2 linked regions of the Homo sapiens genome follow. The protein of the gene in region 1 interacts with the protein of each later gene in a biochemical or structural test. Each region holds a gene or a part of one and is shown in the gene's direction. Other genes may lie near its edges.

Region 1 (9,835 bases):
ATTATTTCATCGCTGCCTGTCCTGTAATCATTTTGTAGATTCAGATCAAAATAATTTGACTTCATAGTAAAATAAAATAGAACACTGTTGGCCTAATGTGGTTGTAAAGAAATGCGTGCAATAGAGGGATGCTTGATAAACATTTTAGAAATGTGCTCCGTGTAGTCATTGGTCTACGTATACTGTCTCTTTAAGAGACTGAACTCAAAAAAACATGTGGCCAGAGGCGGCTCTTGCTTGTGTGTTTAAAATGTGCTGGTCTGCTACTTGGGGTAAATTTCCACCTTTGCTCGTATTGTGTTGTAATTTTTAAAGATGTTTTAATACCAAACAGAATTTCATTGCTTCCCATTTTCAAAATTTTACCCAGGAAATAATGAATTAATACTTCTGCCTTTACTCCTCTCTACTGCTTAATCCCTTTATAGTAAAAAAGATACTTTTATGGAAGCCGGTTGTTTCCTCAAAAAAAGGTAAATATAAATTTTCTGTAGTTAGAAATAAAGAGGTTTACGACTAAAGAGGTTTATTTTGGCATGATAATCTAAGTTAAAAAGAATTGAATGAAAGGCTGTTAATACTACAGATTGACTGACAGATACATGGGTGAAATATTTGGTATATTTGCTTGAAAAGTATATATTTGATACTGTGTTGCATGTTCCTAGTAATATTTATACCCCCTTCCCTAAGGAATATCATCTTCAAATTAAATATATAAACAATAGAAACATATGAAACCATTCTGTTTTGATCTGTTGTCCTGTGGTGCTTGGTAGCTTCCTGACCTTGCTGTGTGGTGTGTGTTTTCCTTTCCTGAAGGCCTGGCCATCATTATTGGCTGTTTATATGTGGAAGGATCAGCATAATCTGTGAATTGAAACAGGGTTTAAGTACACAAATACAAGTCCACATACAGACTACTGGATTTTATGCTTCCTATTTTATAGTGCAAAATGAAGCTACATTTTCTGTTTTTTCCCCTCTAAGACTGGATGACAAAAATCATAGACAAATCCATTTTCTCTCAGGCTCTTTCTTCCACCTTTGAACCTTCTTTAGGTTGTTAAATTGTTTTTTATGATCTCATAAATTTGTTTTATAGATGAATGAAAAAAATAACCCTTCTTTGTCTGGTCACGCCTTTTTATAATTTGATTTTCTATGTTTACCTTCTAAAATATTCATCAAATGTTAAGATATTTTATTAACCAATGTTAATGTTTAGAACAACAAGACATTTGTGTTTATACTATTTAATGATTATATATTGATAAACATTCCTCTATTCACTGAATTAAAACATGTAGCTGCTGAAGTTTTTTAAATATATAGCTGTTTCTATACTATAAACATTGATTTTTAAATAGTTGACTTAATATTCAGTTACATACAGTAGTATATACATACAGTTCATGTATATATTAAAAGGACAGTATTAAATGATGCCTAGTTAAAGAGGTTTCTTATATTGTAATATACATAAATTGTATATAAATTGTATGAATAATTGTTTTGAAGAAGGCAGGAATCCTACTGATGTTAGCTAAGCAACTACAAGTAACAGATGGTTGTAAATGATACAGGTATTATGTGTGCATCACTTATGGAATAAGGTTGCAATTCAAGACGATTTCATAGAATTTTAAAAAACATTTTTATTATTATTTTAGAGGCCTTTTTAGTTTTATAAGCATTTTTGAAAACATACCAGGTTTTATGTCTATGTACTATTTTGTTGTGAAAGGATATGTATCATAGGTGATTAGGAATTTTAAATGTTCAACTGGACCTATGTCTACTCAAAATTTTTAAAATATATGACATAGTTTTTTTTGAAGTGTTTGGAAGTACATGTGTCACTGGATTTTTTTTTTGAAGTATTCTGAAACATTTTTAATAATGTATATTTGGAGAAATAAAAAACAAATTATTTGTGTCCTTAATAAATACATAAAAATTTATGCTGAGGAACCTAGGATACTTTTTCTCTTAAAAATATTGATTGCATGTAACAGCATATCAAAACATATTCAGTTGCTTCAAAATAAAGAGAATATATATATGTGTGTGTTTTAAAATTGAGCTGTGTATTTGTAGTTATGTATATTTATAGTTACATAACTCTACTTAAAATTTATTGGCAGTAATACCATCAAACTTTCTTGTAGTTCCTGTGATGTCACCAAATCCTCAAAAAGAAACACATGCCTAGGTGCTGTACTTTGTCTCTCTTTAGTCTCTCTTTAGACATGTTGATAAATGCTGTGAGATTCTGCTATTTGAGGATGGTATGTAACCATTGATGGTTTAAAATGACAGTCTTCATTTGATTTTCTAATGTTAATTTGTAATTTAAATAATCATATTTTTATGATGTGAAAATATATATTCTGACCCATGTTAATTGTGAAACATTGATATAGTTCAATAATGAATATTTTATTTTTAAAAAATTAACAAAATATGTAAGTATTATATTTGTGAATTTTGTCATATCTCACTGTTGAAGTTTTTAAAAAATGTTTAATAAAATAGGACAATTTTGATGATTTTATTTTTAAATATATTTAAGAATTTCTCGAGTAATACAAACACAGATTTGTTTCAAATGAAGTAAGGATATACGTGGTTAATACAAATTTGTTACGTCTAAATTCTTTTATTTTTTTTTTGAGGTGGAGTCTCACACTGTCACCCGGGCTGGAGTGCAGTGGTGAGATCTCGGCTCACTGCAACCTCCACCTCACGAGTTCAAGCGATTCTTCTGCCTCAGCCTCCTGAGTAGCTGGGATTACAGGTGCCCGCCACCACGCCTAGCTAATTTTTTGTATTTTTAGTAGAGATGGGGTTTCACTATGTTGGCCAGGCTAGTCACGAGCTCCTGACCTTGTGATCTGCCTGCCTCCCCCTCCCAAAGTGCTGGGATTACAGGCGTGAGCCACCGCGCCCGGCTTTAAGTCTAAATTTTTACTAAGGTGATTTCATAAATCAGAATATGATTATTTTGTAAGTGCAAGTAATTAATACTCTTACCAGTTTCTTATGTTTTTTAAAATCACAGTTAGATTGTAGGATAACATTTACATTACCTGGAAAATGTTACTGGCAGTTTTTTGAAATGTTAAAAGTTTTTAATAAGACTTAAATATTTGATGGTACTTTAGAGGAATAGAATGGTAATTAAATATTAGATCTCTTTTGGAGAAGGGCAACGTTAACCTAATAACTACCTGTTGATGTTTGTTATATAGGTTTTTCTATAGATTTTGATATTTATTTCCAAAGTCATTATCTTACCTAATAAGATGAAATGATCATTTGAATTTGATTTTGTTCTGGGAAGGTGTAGAATACATTCTCCTTATTACTCTCTCCTCAGCTTATGTGCTTAATAATACTTCACATATTGGGTGTATATATACTTGGCATTCCTTGCCATCAAATATGATACAATTGTTTACATAAATGTATTTCATTTATTTCATAATGTATGCATAATGTATGTATCTCTTTTTTTCTCAAAGAGAAAGAGTAATTTCAAAATGACTGCAATTTAGCTACCATTACTCAGTAGGCCTAAATATTTATTAATAATTTACCTTTATTCATCTTCATTTACCTTACAAGTATTGGTGTTTTCTTCTTATGGTCTTTATTTTTGAATTAGATTTTGATCTTTATGGATAATTCAAATGCCCACATTAGAAAGGCTTTATATATTTTATGTTCCTTTGCTTCAAAAATATCTCAAGGAGTAATGGAAATAGAAAAAATAAAATCATTATTGTTACTGAGTTAAAGCATTAACAGTATGAGATATGAAAACATTTAGAGATGACTAGTGCTTAAATATATGAAAAATTTCTTACACATAGTTCAATCAATTGATCTAATATAGAGTTCTTATGTATTTAATTAATTATACAATGTAGGAAAACAAATTTATTTCAGTATATTCATTTTTAAGGGCTTTTCGTAATATTTCATTGCTAATTAATTAACCATGTTTAGTTTTGTTATAGTTAAGCATAAAATCATTTTTCACATGAAGAATATGTGTGATTATTGTTATTCTCTGGGCTGCTTAAAATGCCAATTAAAAAAAATTAGACATCTTGGAAACTTGAAAATGTGAACATAAGCAGCTCATTTGTATAGTGAGTTACGTATTTTAATATTTTTAAAATGGTTTATAACCTACCAGATTTTTAAGATGAATTGCCCAGTTGACCATTTTCAGAGAATCTCAAGCTGAGTGCTTTAAGGCCGTTTAATCATAACATCACATTTAAAGGCATTTTATTTTTAATTTTTTTCTTGAGACAGTATCTGGCTCTGTCGCCCAGGTTGGAGTGCAGTGGCGCGATCTCTGCTCACTGCAACTCCGCCTTCCGGGTTCACGCCATTCTCCTGCTTCAGCCTCCTGAGTAGCTGGGACTACAGGCGCCCGCCACCACGCCCGGCTAATTTTTTGTATTTTTAGTAGAGACGGGGTTTCACTGTGTTAGCCAGGATGCTCTCGATCTCCTGACCTCATGATCCACCCACCTCGGCCTCCCAAAGTGCTGGGATTACAGGCGTGAGCCACCGCTCCTGGCCAGGCATTTATTATAAAACAAAATTTTATAAGATTTCTTAATGTAGCCCTAAAGATACTTTTGATTTTCAAGTGGTGGTGCATTTCTCAGACTCTTTTTCATGTATTTAAGTCCTACAAAGACATTCTGATTCAATTTAAATGTGAAATGTGAATTGGGTACATATTGAAGATGTAGGCCTTTCTCCTGTTTTAAAGATTATTGGTGTACTTCTTAAATATTTTTCTCCTGCCTTTTTAAAGAGCAGTTTTAGGTTCACAGCAAAATTAAGAGGAAAATACATAGATTTTTCCATGTACCCTTGCCCCTTCAAATGCATAGCATCCTCCATTATCAACATCCCCTACCAAGAGTGGCACATTTGTTTCAATTAATGAATGTACATTGACACATCATAATCACACAGAGTCCATAGTTTATATTAGTGTTAGCCTTTGGTGTTGCATGTTCTCGCTAATTTTCAATTCCTCTTTTATTTTAAAAGACTATTCACAACAAATGAATGCAGTAAATCAAAGAATAATTTTTTAAATAAAAATATGAGTGTCAAACCACTTACAAGTATTCAGTGTAACCTTTTAAAGCATGTCTTTAACTTATCTTAGAGTTCTTAGGTTTCATGAGAAATTAAAAGCTTATTTGTTATCTGCGTTCACCTTGGTAGATTAAAAATTGAGTCCTTCACTGTAATTTTTGTCGCTTTCAGGCAGCAACAAAACATTATTTGGATTTGGTTTAATTCTTCCTATTCAGAGATAGTTAGAAATATTACAGATAGTTATGTCTATTTTAACCGAGCAGCTCTTTTGGTTTGTGATTAACTTAAAAGTTGCTACTTAAAAATAAGATGCACTGTGTTGTTTTTGTTTTTTTGAGACTAAGTTACCCAGGCTGACCTGGAACTCCTAGCTAGTCTCAAGAGATACTCCCTCCTCAGCCTCCCTAATAGCTGTGACTACAGGCATGCACCACTGTGTCCAGCTTGATGTACTATATTCTTACTTCTAAACTGAGAATAACCTAAACAAAGTGAAGATACTTCTGATCAATTAAACTGGAAAGTTATCTTAAATGTTATATTCTATAGACTTGATTTGGAATGAAATATGGGATATTTTATCATTATCAAAGACTATCAGTTCTTTATACTTTGAGCTATTTCCCCTGAGTTTTGAGTAACAGGAAGTTCAGCTTATTTAATACATAGTTACAATAGATGGCATTGTACCATATACAATGCATAAGAAATTCAACTGATTTATATTCCTCCCTAAAATAATTGATTATAGCATCTTCTAATATCATAAAAGTTGATAACAGTAATGTGTTTAAGAAAGTACATTGCAGGTCAGTGGGGTACATTTAAAAATGATCTTTTAATGAGTAGTTTATCAAACAAGTAATGAAAGTACCATGTTGCATTTTGATACATCAGGATACATCTAATCATTTATCTCAAATTGGAGGACAGTCTGATTATTGCTTCTTCTTTTCCAATATCTAAATATTTGACAATTTGGAAATATTTTCTAAATAAGATTTACAAATAATTGATAGATTTAGTGTTATAATTTTTTCTATAATTTTCTGTTACCTGGAGTAATACCTAACTTTTAAAGTTGTTTTGAAGAGTAGAGGTAATGTTATATAACTGCCTAGTAAGTGTCTGTTGAGAAAATAAACTAATGTAAACTGGTCTTTGCCAAAAGAATAATGGATAAGTTATTTTCAGTGGTGTATACTCATGGTGGATAATTAAGCTGGTCTTTTATGTGCTTTCTTTAAAATTGGCCAAAATGTGTTGTATATTAATAGTTTAATTTCCATTACAGTTGATGTTAAGGCTTTTCATTATAGTTTTGTGGCATTGAATATTGTTTTTGTTATTTAAAATAATTCTTTTGGCTGAGCATGGTGGCTCATGCCTGTAATCCCAGCACTTTGGGAGGCTGAGGCTGGCAGATTGAGCCCAGGAGTTTTAGACCAGCCTGGGTAACATGGCAAAACTCCGTCCCTACCAAAAAAATTAGCTAGGCCTGATGGCATGCACCTGTGGTCCCAAATATCAGGGAGCCTGAGGTAAAAGGATCACTTCTTGAGCCCAGGAGACAGAGGCCACAATGAGCTGAGATCACTCCATTGCACTCCAGTCTGGACGACAGAGCAAGATGGTCTCTAAAATTATTATTTTTTTTGAGATCTGGTCTCACTCTGTTGCCTAGGCTAGAGTGCAGTGGCAGGATCATAGCTTACTGAAGCCTTGACTTCCTGGGCTCAAGTGATCCTCCTGCCTTGGCCTCCCAAAGTCCTGGGATTACAGGCATGAGCAACAGTGCCAGGCCTAGAATATTGTTTAAAGTATCAGGGTGTAAACTGCAGCTTGGAAATATTTTTGTTATGCAGATATTTTGGTTTTAATAATTGTTGTAACATAAGATTTTACCTGTGTAAGATTTTACCTGTGTACATATGCATGTGTATTCATTATAAGCTAAAGAAAAAATACTGTTTTAAATAGGCCTGTTGTGATAATTTAATACCATTTTTTGGTTAATAATTATTTAATCTTTGTAAGATAGTATAGAATGATAAAGATTCTGGTCAAATCAGTATTCAAATCCCAGTTTATTAGATACCTGTAAGGGAAGTAAGTTACCTTGTCAGTGTCTCAATGGCCTATAAATCGGAGGACAAAAATAGTACCCACTTTGTATAGGGCTGTTAGGAGGATTACATGTTATTACATATGTAAAGCACCTAACACAAACTTGGCAGATAGTAGGGACTCAATGTGTGTTGTACATAATTAGTATTATAAAGGAGAAGTAGTGTGGTATTGTGAGAAAAAAAACCATGGGAATGAGTGTTTGGCTTCGGCTCTGCCAGTTGGTTGGTTTATAACTTTTGGCTGGTCACTTCCAGGGAGCTTCAGTGTTCTTATGGGTAAAATGTGATAAATAATATTTTTCATCTTTATTTTAGAGGGTTATGGTAAGGGTCAATTGAAATAATACACATGAAAATAATTTAAAAACTGTAACAATCTCAGGTTTTAGTTTTTATCTTTTTTTCAAGAGCTATGTTTTTATTAATCATTTTAATTATAAGAGTTTTTCTGGTTTTTGTTTTGAGACAGAGTATTGCTCTTGCTCAGGCTGGAGTGCAGTGGTGGGATCATGGCTCACTGCAACCTCAAACTCCTGACTCAAGCAATTATCCCACCTGAGCCTTCTGAGATGCTGGGATTCTAGGTGTGCATCACCATGCCCGGCTGATTTTTTTTTTTTTTTTTTTTGAGACAGAGTCTCGCTACATTGCCCAGGCTGGAGTGCAGTGGTGCTGTATCGGCTCACTGCAAGCTCCGCCTCCCAGGTTCACGCCATTCTCCTGCCTCAGCCTCCAGAGTAGCTGTGACTACAGGCACTCGCCACCACGCCCGGCTAATTTTTTGTATTTTTAGTAGAGATGGGGTTTCACCGAGTTAGCCAGGATGGTCTCAATCTCCTGACGTTGTGATCCGCCCACTTCGGCCTCCCAAAGTGCTGGGATTACAGGCGTGAGCCACCGCGCCCAACCTCTGGCTGATATTTTTTATTATATTTGTAGAGACGGGGTCTCCCCATGTTGCCCAGGCTGGTCTTGAACTCCTGGGCTCAAGGGATCCTCCCACCTCAGCCTGCCAAAGTTACAGAGATTTACAGGCGTGAATCACCATGCCTGGCCTCACTCTGGTTTTCTTTAGTTTTTTTTTCTACCTGGAAATTAACCTTTATCCTAGTAGTGTCTGTGCTTGTTAATGAGATTAATTCATATGCATTTTACTAATCTTCAATATAATATTAATTTCATTTATCATTATGGTATTTTCTCATGTGCTGTAAACTCACCACTTACTTAAAGGGCATAATTAGGCTTATTGATGTTCATATGTCTTGTCAGAAATTTATTGAATTGGCTGGGCATGGTGGCTCATGCCTGTAATCCCAGCACTTTGGGAGGCTGAGGGGGGTGGATCACTTGAGGTCAGGAATTTGAGACCAGCCTGGCCAACATGGTAAAACCCTGTCTCTCCTAAAAATACAAAAAATTAGACAGGCCTGGTGGCACATGCTTGTAATCCCACCTATTTGGAAGGCTGAGGCAGGAGAATCACTTGAACCCGGGAGGTGGAGGTTGCAGAGAACCGAGATCATGCCATTGCACTCCAGGCGACAAGAGTGAAACTCCCTCTCAAAAAAAAAAAAAAAAAAAAAAAGAAAGAAAGAAATTTATTGAATTTCTGTCCCAACTCAGTTTTTGTATAAACATTTTTAAAATTTTTATTTAATTAATTATTATTATTATTATTATTTAGAAACAGGGTCTTCCTCAGTCACCCAGGCTGGCGTGCAGTGGTGGGATTATAGCTCACTGCAACTTCGAACTCCTGGCTCAAGCAATTATCCAACCTGAGCCTTCTGAGTAGCTGGGACTACAGGCGTGCACCACCATGCCTGGCACATGCCACTGCGCCTGGCTAATTTTTAAAATTTTTTGTAGAGACAGAATCTTGCCTTGTTGACCAGGCTGGTTTAGAACTCCTGGCTTCAGGTAATCCTCCTGCCTCTGCCTCCTTAAGTGCTGGGATTACAGATGTGAGCCACTTTGCTCAGCTTGTATAAACATTTTTGGAAATGTAAATCAACAAGATGGCTTAATGTCATAGAAAAGTATTAACTTTTAAAAAATGATTATAAAAATCGTGGTTCAGTAAAGCCAACTAATTTTTATTGATCATGTACTCAGTGAAACACTGTTGGTTTGGTATTTTCATTTTAGCAAAATTTAAAATAAGTTTTTTCCAGTTAATTCTCATTGTTTGCATATAAGGCATAAAAGCAAAGGATCATTTTTCCTGTGTTGTATTCACTTCCTTTTACGAAGTCTAATTATACAGTCTCTACCAATTTAATTTTGGGATAGCTAAGATAAAAAGCAAATATTAGTTTTAAAATTTTGAGCTAAATGCAATGATTTCTCAGTAGTATTAAAATATGTTTTTCACATTTCATGTGGAGAAACTGTTTTTGCCAGTGCTTAGAATCATTAATTTATTGTGCTATTAGTAATATACTTAATTTCTACCAGCTGCTTTAAATCTTTGTCATAACAGCCCACTTTAAAAAATCAAAACCCACTTAAATTTATTACTTTTGTTAATCTTAAAATTAGACTTTTTAAATCTTGTAAGTTTA
Region 2 (9,835 bases), on another chromosome or scaffold:
TCCTCCCTTTTCTGATTTTAATTTCTGTGTGGCAAAACGCGGCAATCGTCTTGAGTTAGGCGTGAGTTGGGAGGAGATAGGTGTGTGTGTTTGTGTAGACGTGGCCTGCTCCTGCTCTTGTGGGCACACCAGAGGCCTCCCAACGTGCTGAGAAGGCGCTCCTTTATTTTCAGATTTTTGTTTGGAAAACTCATAGATTGTTGCCTTTAAAATGGGGCGTGAGCCCGGAAGAGATGGTTGTGTGGGTGAGTGCGTGGAGTTTGTGTGCCTCCGTAGACCTGGTTTCCACGTGCGCACTTGTGAGGGGAAGACTGGTTTTTTTGTTGTTGGGACAGCATGGCAGTCCTTGCCTCCTTATGTTGGGTAAGAGTGGGAGCGTCTGTGGATCTTTGAGGGCCAAGGGCCCCCAGTCTTAAGCCCTTCTCTCTCTGCGGCTGCTTCCTATATTGTTTAAAATGCGTGTTCTGGCCCCTGAATTCTCCTAGCGTGAAATCGCCGTTCGTGGGCCCACGGCTGCACCCCGAGATAGAAGCGGAATAAAGGGACGACGTTACCTTCACCAGCCTGAGTCTCTTGGGCCGCGCCCGCCTGCCCCGACTCCAAGCCCTACAGGAACCGGTTTCCCTGGTTAGGAGGTATCCACCCGGCTCAACCAGGGTCTCGACTTCCTTGGAAAAGACCAAGGCAGCCGTACGCTGCTGGAACGCCGGAGTGCAAAGGCTTTTAGGGCTACATTGCAACCCTCGGGCTCGATTTCGCCCTTTGGGCTGTCGAGTAAACATTTGCTTTTCACACAGTGTGACCCCTTTCTCCTTTCCACTTTGGTATTATGCGAGTGTCGTCTTCTCCCCCGAACCCAATGAAGGCAGGCCAAAAGTCTTGAGAAGCGGGCTCTTGCCGAGGGGGTCGGTAACTTAGGCGATCTACCTGTAGACCGGTAAGAGAGGGTGTGGGTGAAAGTCTTGACTTAGAGCGTAAGCTGGAGACTGCAGAGGCTTTAAAAGCCATAGTGGGGGTCGTGGCCTGTGTGAGCTGGAGAGTGGGTACCGAGCACCGCAAAGGTGAGCCCAGCGCCGCTGCCTTTTCCACTCCTAACCTGTTATTTGGGGAGGAGGGCGGAGCTATTGCCTGATGGCCTTTAGCTGGCTTCTCCTGTTGGAAAAAAGTTGAAATTCTAATCTACTTGTTGTAGGCATCTCCTTTTAAAAGGTTTCTTCTAGGTAAGAAGCTAGGGGGCAGTTATCTTTTTTTTCCGTTTTTAAACTTTGAATGGACTCCTAGTTTTAATATACTGTGGGTTCATGTTCTTTCATCACTTTTAGAAAAATGAGTGATTGAGGTAAATACCGATCCAAATCCCAGGAACAGAAAAATGGAGCCAATTCACTTGCAGTTTGGGATCAAATGCAGGGTGAGCAGAATGGGGTTGAATCCAGGAGTTTCCCCTTCTGAGAGGTGCTTTTAGTTTAAATGTCAGTTTATATTTCCAGTTAAAGATACACCTATATTTTATTTGGGCTGAAACAGTAGATGCTCAGTGTTGGCAGACTTGTAAAAGATTTATTCACTTTTAAAATTAGAAAACCCTTCAAACTGCATTGGGGAGTGTGAATTGAGAAGTGAAGCTCTCCACTCACCCTGGGAGGTACTCGGAAGCTCTTCAAATTCACTTTTTAGCATGTGCAATGTCAGGTTGAAGTAACTAATAATCCTTAACATAAAATTTGCTCAGTTTTGAGCAAGATTCTGCTTGCTCCCTTTAGCTTTTCATTAAAAACATTTCGGAAGTTGTTTGGCCTTTTTATTCATTCCTGGATTTAGAACGCTAGAAATTTGAGATTAAAGGTGACAAACCAGTGTTCTGAGTAGAAGACTAAAGTGTTAGGAGAGACAGCACTAACAGGTAGTGAGGTTCATAAACGGTTCCACCTACAGCTTAAATAATTCCTTTTCTTTTGATCTCGTTAACAGTTTGAGAATATTGTTCCTTTAAAAAGTCATCCCTCTCTGGCTGGGAAGGAGCTTTAGGACATTTTTGGAGGATGATAGACTGACCCATATCTGGACTGCGATACACTGAATGCCTAAATCCACATATTTTAATGTGTATACTGTCTACCTCAATTTTTAAGATGAGCTCCTTAACTGAGTTGCTTCCCTTGTCCACAGGCTCCGTTAAATAATTCAGAGTAGCACCTTTTCCTTATAGTGACTCAGGCCACCTGACCTTGGGAAGGAGGCCCAAACACCCTACCCCAGCCTGCAGGGTCTCTCGCCCAGGGGGACTTTCTTCCTTAAGCATCCCCTTGTAAAATGCCTTCTTAGGATTGGCAAGTAAGGTGTCTCGTCTGAGCAATTGGCTTTAAACCGTAATGATGATAACCTGGAAATCTTTGGGTTTTCCAACGAAATAATGAGACGTACTTGCTGCTACTCTTTTATTTTGGCTTATTTCAACAACATAGTTGGGGCTTTTCACTAGTTCTGTGCCTCCAGAGTCCGAAAGGCCTGCAGGCTCCGTGGCCCAGCCGGCATCCGGGCGGGGAATCCAAGGCGAGGAATCCGAGGTCGCCGTCCCCGGAACAGCTGGCCGCGGGCCCGCTGCGTGCCGCGGGTCCCGGGAGAGGCGGGCGCAGGTAGAGTCGCCGCGGGCCTGCGCCGCCGCCCGGCCAGCCCGGAGCCTGCCTCGGCTCTGGGGACGTGGCCTGGCCGGCGGCTGCTCTTCTCCCCGCAGGCACCCGCTGGGGTATTCACGGCCGCTCTGGTCATGGAGTAGGGTCTTCGCTTGAGTTTTGGGGGAAGAGTTTCACAACTAGGGAGTTGTGAGCGCTGCTCCAGCTGCTCACAAGTGACCCTTTAGTGTTGTTTTGCTTTTGGCACATAGAACGTGAGCCCTTTGCAGCCTTGGAGGCGACACCGGCAGCAGAAATGCTGGGTGTGTTGTGTGCCTAAGCTGGGCGTCAGGATTCTGTGAATGGCGGGAAGTTGAGCAGGGTTTGAACCCAGGAAAGCCTCTGTCACTAGCGGTGAGGGGCAGTGGGGGTGACATTGTTGCCACCTGGAAAACATTGTAGCCCGCCCCACCCGAGGATGGCAATATTGTTCCCAGTTAGGCAGGTCTGGGGGTGGCGTTTTCTGGAGTCTGGTTGGAAAAAGGGGTGCAGGTGTTGGTAGAATCCATGCGGTCCCTGTGTTGGGCTTTAAAATGCCTCCTGAAGAGAAAAGTTCTAGAATTCCAACTTGATTTGACCCTGAACATTGAGCACTCCTGGGACTGTCTCCTGGCAGGAAACTTAAAGTGGCTTCAGTCACTTGGAACAAGGAGGTTTGCTGCCTAAAATAATCGGTTGCTGTGTGAATTTGTTTTGTATATTTTAAGTCATATTGTAAATGGGACTGTACCTGTATTCAGCACCAGTGTATATTATTCTCTGTTCCCAAAGTCTAAGTTTTTTCAGGTCTGCATATACTCAGTGTATGCATGCTTATTTTAAATTATATTCATGTTCTTGCATAAATTATAAAATCCATACCAAAATATTTTTAAAAGCATAATACAAATTTTCCCACTTACACTGCATGTCGAAGTAATTCTCTTTTTAAGGGTGTGAAATGTAGGTATAGCTAAAGAACCACTTTCCTATCTTTTCCGTCTTTAGAGGCGATCAGATGTAACTAAGTTGGTGAAATTTATGATAAACTTTGAGAATTTCTACAAGAAATTGGCATTTTAATTGGAATCCGATTGATTCATATTAATTTCAACAAATTTTTAAAAAAAATTTTTTTAAAGGAAGGACAAGGAGAGAAAGTGAACAGAAATGGGTATTCTAGTATTTCTGTTACCTGCTTTCAACCTGCTCTACACTACTGGGTGAATATGTCCTCTGAGTGCAGACATCTCACCTACTGGCTGGAAAACCAAACCTAACTGCCTTGAAAATAATTACAGAGGTTGCTGCTTTGAATCCAGTTCAGCAGGTAGACATTAGGAAGCCTACTGAATTCAGAAAATGCTTGATAAAAATATATGGGAGGGAAATGTTCGTTATTGATATGTTAATTGCTTAGCCTTTGTGGGCTTAAGGTAGTTCCATTAAAGTGCATAGGAATGGATTTTTCAACATGGACCCTCAGGAAGTGGGCCACAGCTAGTTTGGCAAGCCTGTGCTGATGAGGTTGCCTTGAAGGCATAACCTGTCATAAACTGTGCTAGTAGTATGGAGGCTGTTGTGGTATCAGCACTGTCTGGGAAACCTTTTGTGATTATTTGTTCAGTTTCCTTCCTTTACAAAGATAAACTATAGTGGTTTTAGTGGTTTGGGGATTGCATAGATTTGATACAAGATTTTTATTTCCAATTCTAGGAATATACATTTTGGAAGACAAGATATTTGGGGAAAAAAACGTTACTTTTTCTAGACTTCCAGTTCTTCATTTGACAACGGTATTTGTTCTTTATCATTGACATTGTTTTCAAAGTGAAATAGTTGTACTTGAAATGGGGAAACCCAGGAGGCGGAGGTTGCAGTGAGCCGAGGGTGCAGTGAGCCGAGATCATGCCATTGCACTCCAGCCTGGGTGACGGAGCGAGACTATCTAAAAAGATACAGGGAAATCTTCCTAAAAGTGTTTGAAGAGGGTCAGGCGTGAGCCACCGCGCCTTTGGGAGGCCGAGGCGGGCGGATCACGAGGTCAAGAGATCGAGACCATCCTGGCCAACATGGTGAAACCCTGTCTCTACTAAAAATACAACAAAAATTAGCCAGGCGTGGTGGCGCGTGCCTGTAGTCCCAGCTACCCAGGAGGCTGAGGCAGGAGCATTGCTTGAACTGGGGAGGCGGAGGCCGCAGTGATCCGAGATCGTGCCGCTGCACTCCAACCTGGGCAACAGTGAGACTTGTCTCAAAAAAAGAAAAAAAAAAGTGTTTGAAGATTAGGTAAAAATTGCCATTTCCCATCTAGTTCTCCCTCCCATTGTATTATAGCTACTTACTTAATACTTTTATTTAGTCCTTTTGTTTTTTTCTGAGATGGAGTTTCACTCTTGTTATCCAGGCTGGAGTGCGGTGGTGCAGTCTTGGCTCACTACAACCTCCACCTCACGGGTTCAAGTGATTCTCCTGCCTCAGCCTCCCAAGTAACGGGGATTACAGGCGCTCGTCACCTTGTCCGGCTAATTTTTTTTCTTTCTTTTTTTTTTTTTTAAGTAGAGACGGGGTTTCACCATATTGGCCAGGCTTGTCTCTAACTCCTGACCTCAGGTGATCCACCTGCCTCGGCTTCCCAAAGGGCTGGGATTGATTACAGGCAAGAGCCACCGCGCCTGGCCCTAGTCCTTTTCTTAAGGCTGAGTCTCACTCATCCCAGGCTGGAGTGCAGTTGTACAGCTCCTTAAAGCCTTGACTTCTCAGGCTTAAGAGATCCTCCTGCCTGTGTCTCTCAAGTAGCTGGGACTACAGGCTCTAGCCATCACACCTGGCTAATTTTTGTAATTTTTGTGGAGATGGCGTTTCGCCATGTTGCCCAGGCTGGTCTCAAACTCCCAAGGTCAAGCGACCTGCCTACCTAGGCCTCCCAAAATGCTGGGATTTCAGTCATGAGCCACCTCGCTGGGCTAGATAGTCCTTTTCTTTTCTTTTTTTCTTGAGATGGAGTCTCGCTGTGTCACCCAGGCTGGAGTTCAGTGGCGCGATCTTGGCTCACTGCAACCTCCGCCTCCCTGGTTCAAGCAATTCTTCAGCCTCAGCCTCCCAAGTAGCTGGGACTACAGTCATGTGCCACCATGCCTGGCTAATTTTTGTATTTTTAGTGGAGACGGTGTTTCACCATGTTGGCCAGGCTGGTCTTGAGCTCCTGACCTCAAGGTGATCTGCCTAACTCGACCTCCCAAAGTGCTGGGATTCAGGTGTGAGCCACTGTGCCTGGCCCTTAGGTAGTCCTTTTCTAGAAGGATCTCAGGAGGCTTAAATGTCTAGTTTCCTCAAGTACTACTTAATATGGATGCAACTTTCTCCTCACATGTAAAATTATGAGCATAATTGGGCTTTATGTCTTTTCACTGAAAAAAGGAACTAATAATCGTGCATATATAGTAAGGGAGTTAGCTCTTGTGGAAGCTGTCAATGAAGTTAAATGGCTAAAACGCTTTTTTTTAAGTGGTTTGCCAGGGTAAAACGTGTTTATAAATTTTTCTGGTTCAAGAGAAATTTTCATTAAATAATTCTGTAGCTCTAAAATTTAACCCCCTCTGAGTTATTTCTGGTGCTAAAAGTCACATGGTTTGCCATTTCTCCATCCAGTTCTCTACACAGGGCAAGGTTTATTTTGTCTGTGTTCATTCTTAGCAAATAAAGGACCATTTCAGTGTCATTTTTGACAGGCAAAAGGGTGAGATGAATTCTATACTATGCAGGCAGTTTCAAAATACTGCTTCCCCCCTTCTCCCACTCCCACCCATAAAACTAATAAAGGTTAAAGGCCTGGCTCACTAAGGCTGTTTTTGCTATCTCTGACATTTTGGAAGCGAGCAAGAGAAAGATAATGATAAAGAATTACAGTTGCCTTAAGGGAGCAAGATGCCACCCATTGAAGCCTACTCCGTTACCGCTTTTCTTCTTGACCTTTCAAGCATTGTGGCTTGCAAGAGTAAGCTTGATCCATCTTTCCTCTAAAGCTGATGTGACCTCCTGCTTGTTCAATACTAAATTATTCCCCTCCTTTTGAGGTTTTGTCTATACTCACAAACTGAGTTGACTGAAACCAGATTGACTGTTTTGATTGACAAGACTCTGACTTGTCAACCTAAAAAGTGGGAGGAGTAGGGGGCCTAGTGGTGTCCCTTTACATTTGAAACTGTTTGACTTAAACGATATTCCAAAGTAAATCTTTGCCTCTCCCATGCCATCTCTTGCCTTCCTCATGCTGTAGATAAATGCAGTTTGCTTACAACTGGCTTTGAAGGTGGTAGAATGAAATGAAATGGGGGAAGATCCCACTCAACTCCCATCCAGGCAGGGTGCGGTGGCTTACGCCTGCAATCCCAGCACTTTGGGAGGCTGACGTGGGCAGATCACATAAGGCCCAGAGTTCGAGACCAGCCTACCAACATGGTGAAACCCCATCTCTACTCAAAATACAAAAATTAGCCGGACGAATCCCAGCTACTGAGGCTGAGGCAGGAGAATCACTTGAGCGTGGGAGGCGGAGGTTGCAGTGGGCCAGGATCATGCTATTGCACTCCAGTCTGGGCGATAGAACAAGACTATGTCTCACAAACAAACTCCCATCCAAACCTGAGTTTTAGAGATACTCATATTAGACTTAGGCTAATAGTTTTTTTTGTCATCCTTACTGTAGATTTTCTACTAATCCTAGATGGTTCCTAACCAGAACTTTAATTCCCATCAGGTGAGTTCTTTTTTTTTTTTTTTTTTTTTTGAGAGGGAGCTCTGTCACCCAGGCTGGAGTGTAGTGGCACCATGTTGGTCAGGCTGGTCTCAAACTCCTGACCTCAAATGGTCCACCCACCTTGGCCTCCCAAAGTGCTGGGATTACAGGTGTGAGCCACCACACCCGGTCAGGTGAGTTTTGTGTTTTGTTTGTTTTTTTGAGACGGAGTCTTGCTCTGTCCTGTCCCTGAGGCTGGAGTGCAGTGGTGCGAACTCAGCTCACTGCAAGCTCTGCCTCCTGGGTTCACGCCATCCTCCTGCCTCAGCCTTCCCAGTAGCTGGGACTACAGGTGCCTGCCACCATGCCCGGCTAATTGTTTTTGTATTTTTAGTAGAGACGGGGTTTCACTGTGTTAGCCAGGATGGTCTTGATCTCCTGACCTCATGATCCACCCGCCTCGGCCTCCCAAAGTGCTGGTATTAACAGGCATGAGCCACCGCGCCCGGGCTATGAGTTTGTTTTTAGTGAAGCTATAAATTATCAGTTGGCACAAAAAATTAGCAGTCAGTTGTATTTCACTCAAAAACAATTTTCCACATAGAAGTAGTAGTCTTTAGCAATAAAAATACTGTTTTCAGTAATTATGTTAGCATATTGAAGTTGTGATTATTGGGAATGAGGTCCTTTGTCATGAAGGGTAGGGGGATAATTCTTTTTTTTTTTTTTGGGTGGAGTCTCACTCTGTTGCCTAGGCTGGAGTGTAATGGTGTGATCTCGGCTCCTTGTACCTTCTGCCTCCTGGGTTCAAGCGATTCTCCTGCCTCGTCTCACGAGTAGCTGGGATCACAGGCATGCACCACCATGCCTGACTAATTTTGTATTTTTAGTAGAGATGGGGTTTTGCCATATTGGCCAGGCTGGTCTCGAACTCCTGACCTCAGGTGATCTGCCGCCTCAGCCTCCCAAAGTGCTGGGATTACAGGCGTGAGCCACCGCGCCTTGCAAGGGGGGATAATTCTTGATTGTGATCATTTATCTATAAGAGCTTCTGCAGAATAGCACATTTTGTCAACATTAATAGGTTTTAAAGCAGAGCAGTGGGCACAAAAAAGAATAAAGTGGGTGCAGATCAGTTGTGTAGACTGAGGACATACCCTCCTGGTTCTGACACCCTGTGAATTCCAGGGGCCCTTGAATGGACCTTGGAGCCTGAGTGGTCAATCAGGTCAGGCGCCTCTGAGAATGAGAGCCTTTGTAAACATCTGTTGGCTGCTGCATCCTGTAGCTGTTACTTCTGGAAAGTTTGGCCAGCCATTTTCTTCTCGTCTTAACCTTTTGCAGTTAAAATGTTTTTCTTGAAATGCCAGTGGATTTGGGGAAGTCGTTTCATACTCTTTTGGGACTAATTGGGATAATTATTAAAATGCTGTTGTATAAAAAATCTGCACTTAAGTTTTGCTGCTAAATATAGATTGGATGACTACTTAAGCACTGGTGTTTTAGAAATGAGAATTGTGAATGAGTGGCATCAGCAGCCATTATTACCATGTATTGGACACTTAAAGGAATTCAGGAGTTTAGATCATATATCTCCACATTTTGGTCTGTGCCCTCCGAGATCAGTGTCAAAGGGAGATATTTCTATTACTTAGGATTATCAATAGATTTGTACTGAAAATGCTTCCAGAAATGTTGTAGATAAGCATTGAGCAGGAGAGTAGAAAGTTTAGGTAACAGTTGGAAAAATGTAAGACTCCTGATAGGCAGTCTTAATCAAGTGTCTATTATTTGGCTTTGCTTGAGCACTCTGATTCTAGGTTAGATTCTGCTTTGCCTCAGTTTTTGCATCTGTAAAATGAGGGTAACTCTTTGCGGTGTTGTAAGGAGTAGAGCTGAAATATAAAGTCTCATAGCACAGTGCCCTACAATTGAAGGCAATTGTAAACTTTTTTTTTTTTTTTTTTTTTTTGAGATGGAGTCTTGCTCTGTCACCCAGGCTGGAGTGCAGTGGTGCAATCACAGCTTACTGCTGTCTCAACCTTCCCGGCTCAAGTGATCCTCCCACCTCTGCCTTCTGAGAAGGTGCATGCCACGATGCCCGGCTAATTAAAAAAAATTCTTTTTGTAGAGACTGGGTTGCACCATGTTGCCCAGGCTTGTGTCTGACCCTTGGGCTCAAGCCACCCTCCTGCCTGTCCTCCCAAAGTGCTGGGATTACAGGCGTGAGCCACCTCATCTGGCCCCAATTTACATTTTATATGACATGTTTGAAAACCACTAATTTTTCTTATAATTTTTTTGTAGAGACAGGGTTCTCACTTTGTTGCCCAGTTCACTGATCTTGAACTCTTGGCCTCAAGTGATAGCAATCCTCCTATGTCAGTCTCCTAGAGTACTGGGGTTACAGGCATGAGCCACTGTCCCCCACTAGAAAGCACTAATT

Evidence for each region.
Region 2: the proteins of LIN28B (region 1) and TRIM71 form a complex in vitro, tested with the Homo sapiens proteins (one study listed by BioGRID).

What each region holds. Positions count from the first base shown.
Region 1 is NC_000006.12:104,958,744-104,968,578, forward strand, and holds part of LIN28B (protein lin-28 homolog B), read left to right. Parts: intron 1-9,835. UniProt on the Homo sapiens protein: Suppressor of microRNA (miRNA) biogenesis, including that of let-7 and possibly of miR107, miR-143 and miR-200c.
Region 2 is NC_000003.12:32,819,165-32,828,999, forward strand, and holds part of TRIM71 (E3 ubiquitin-protein ligase TRIM71), read left to right. Parts: intron 1-9,835.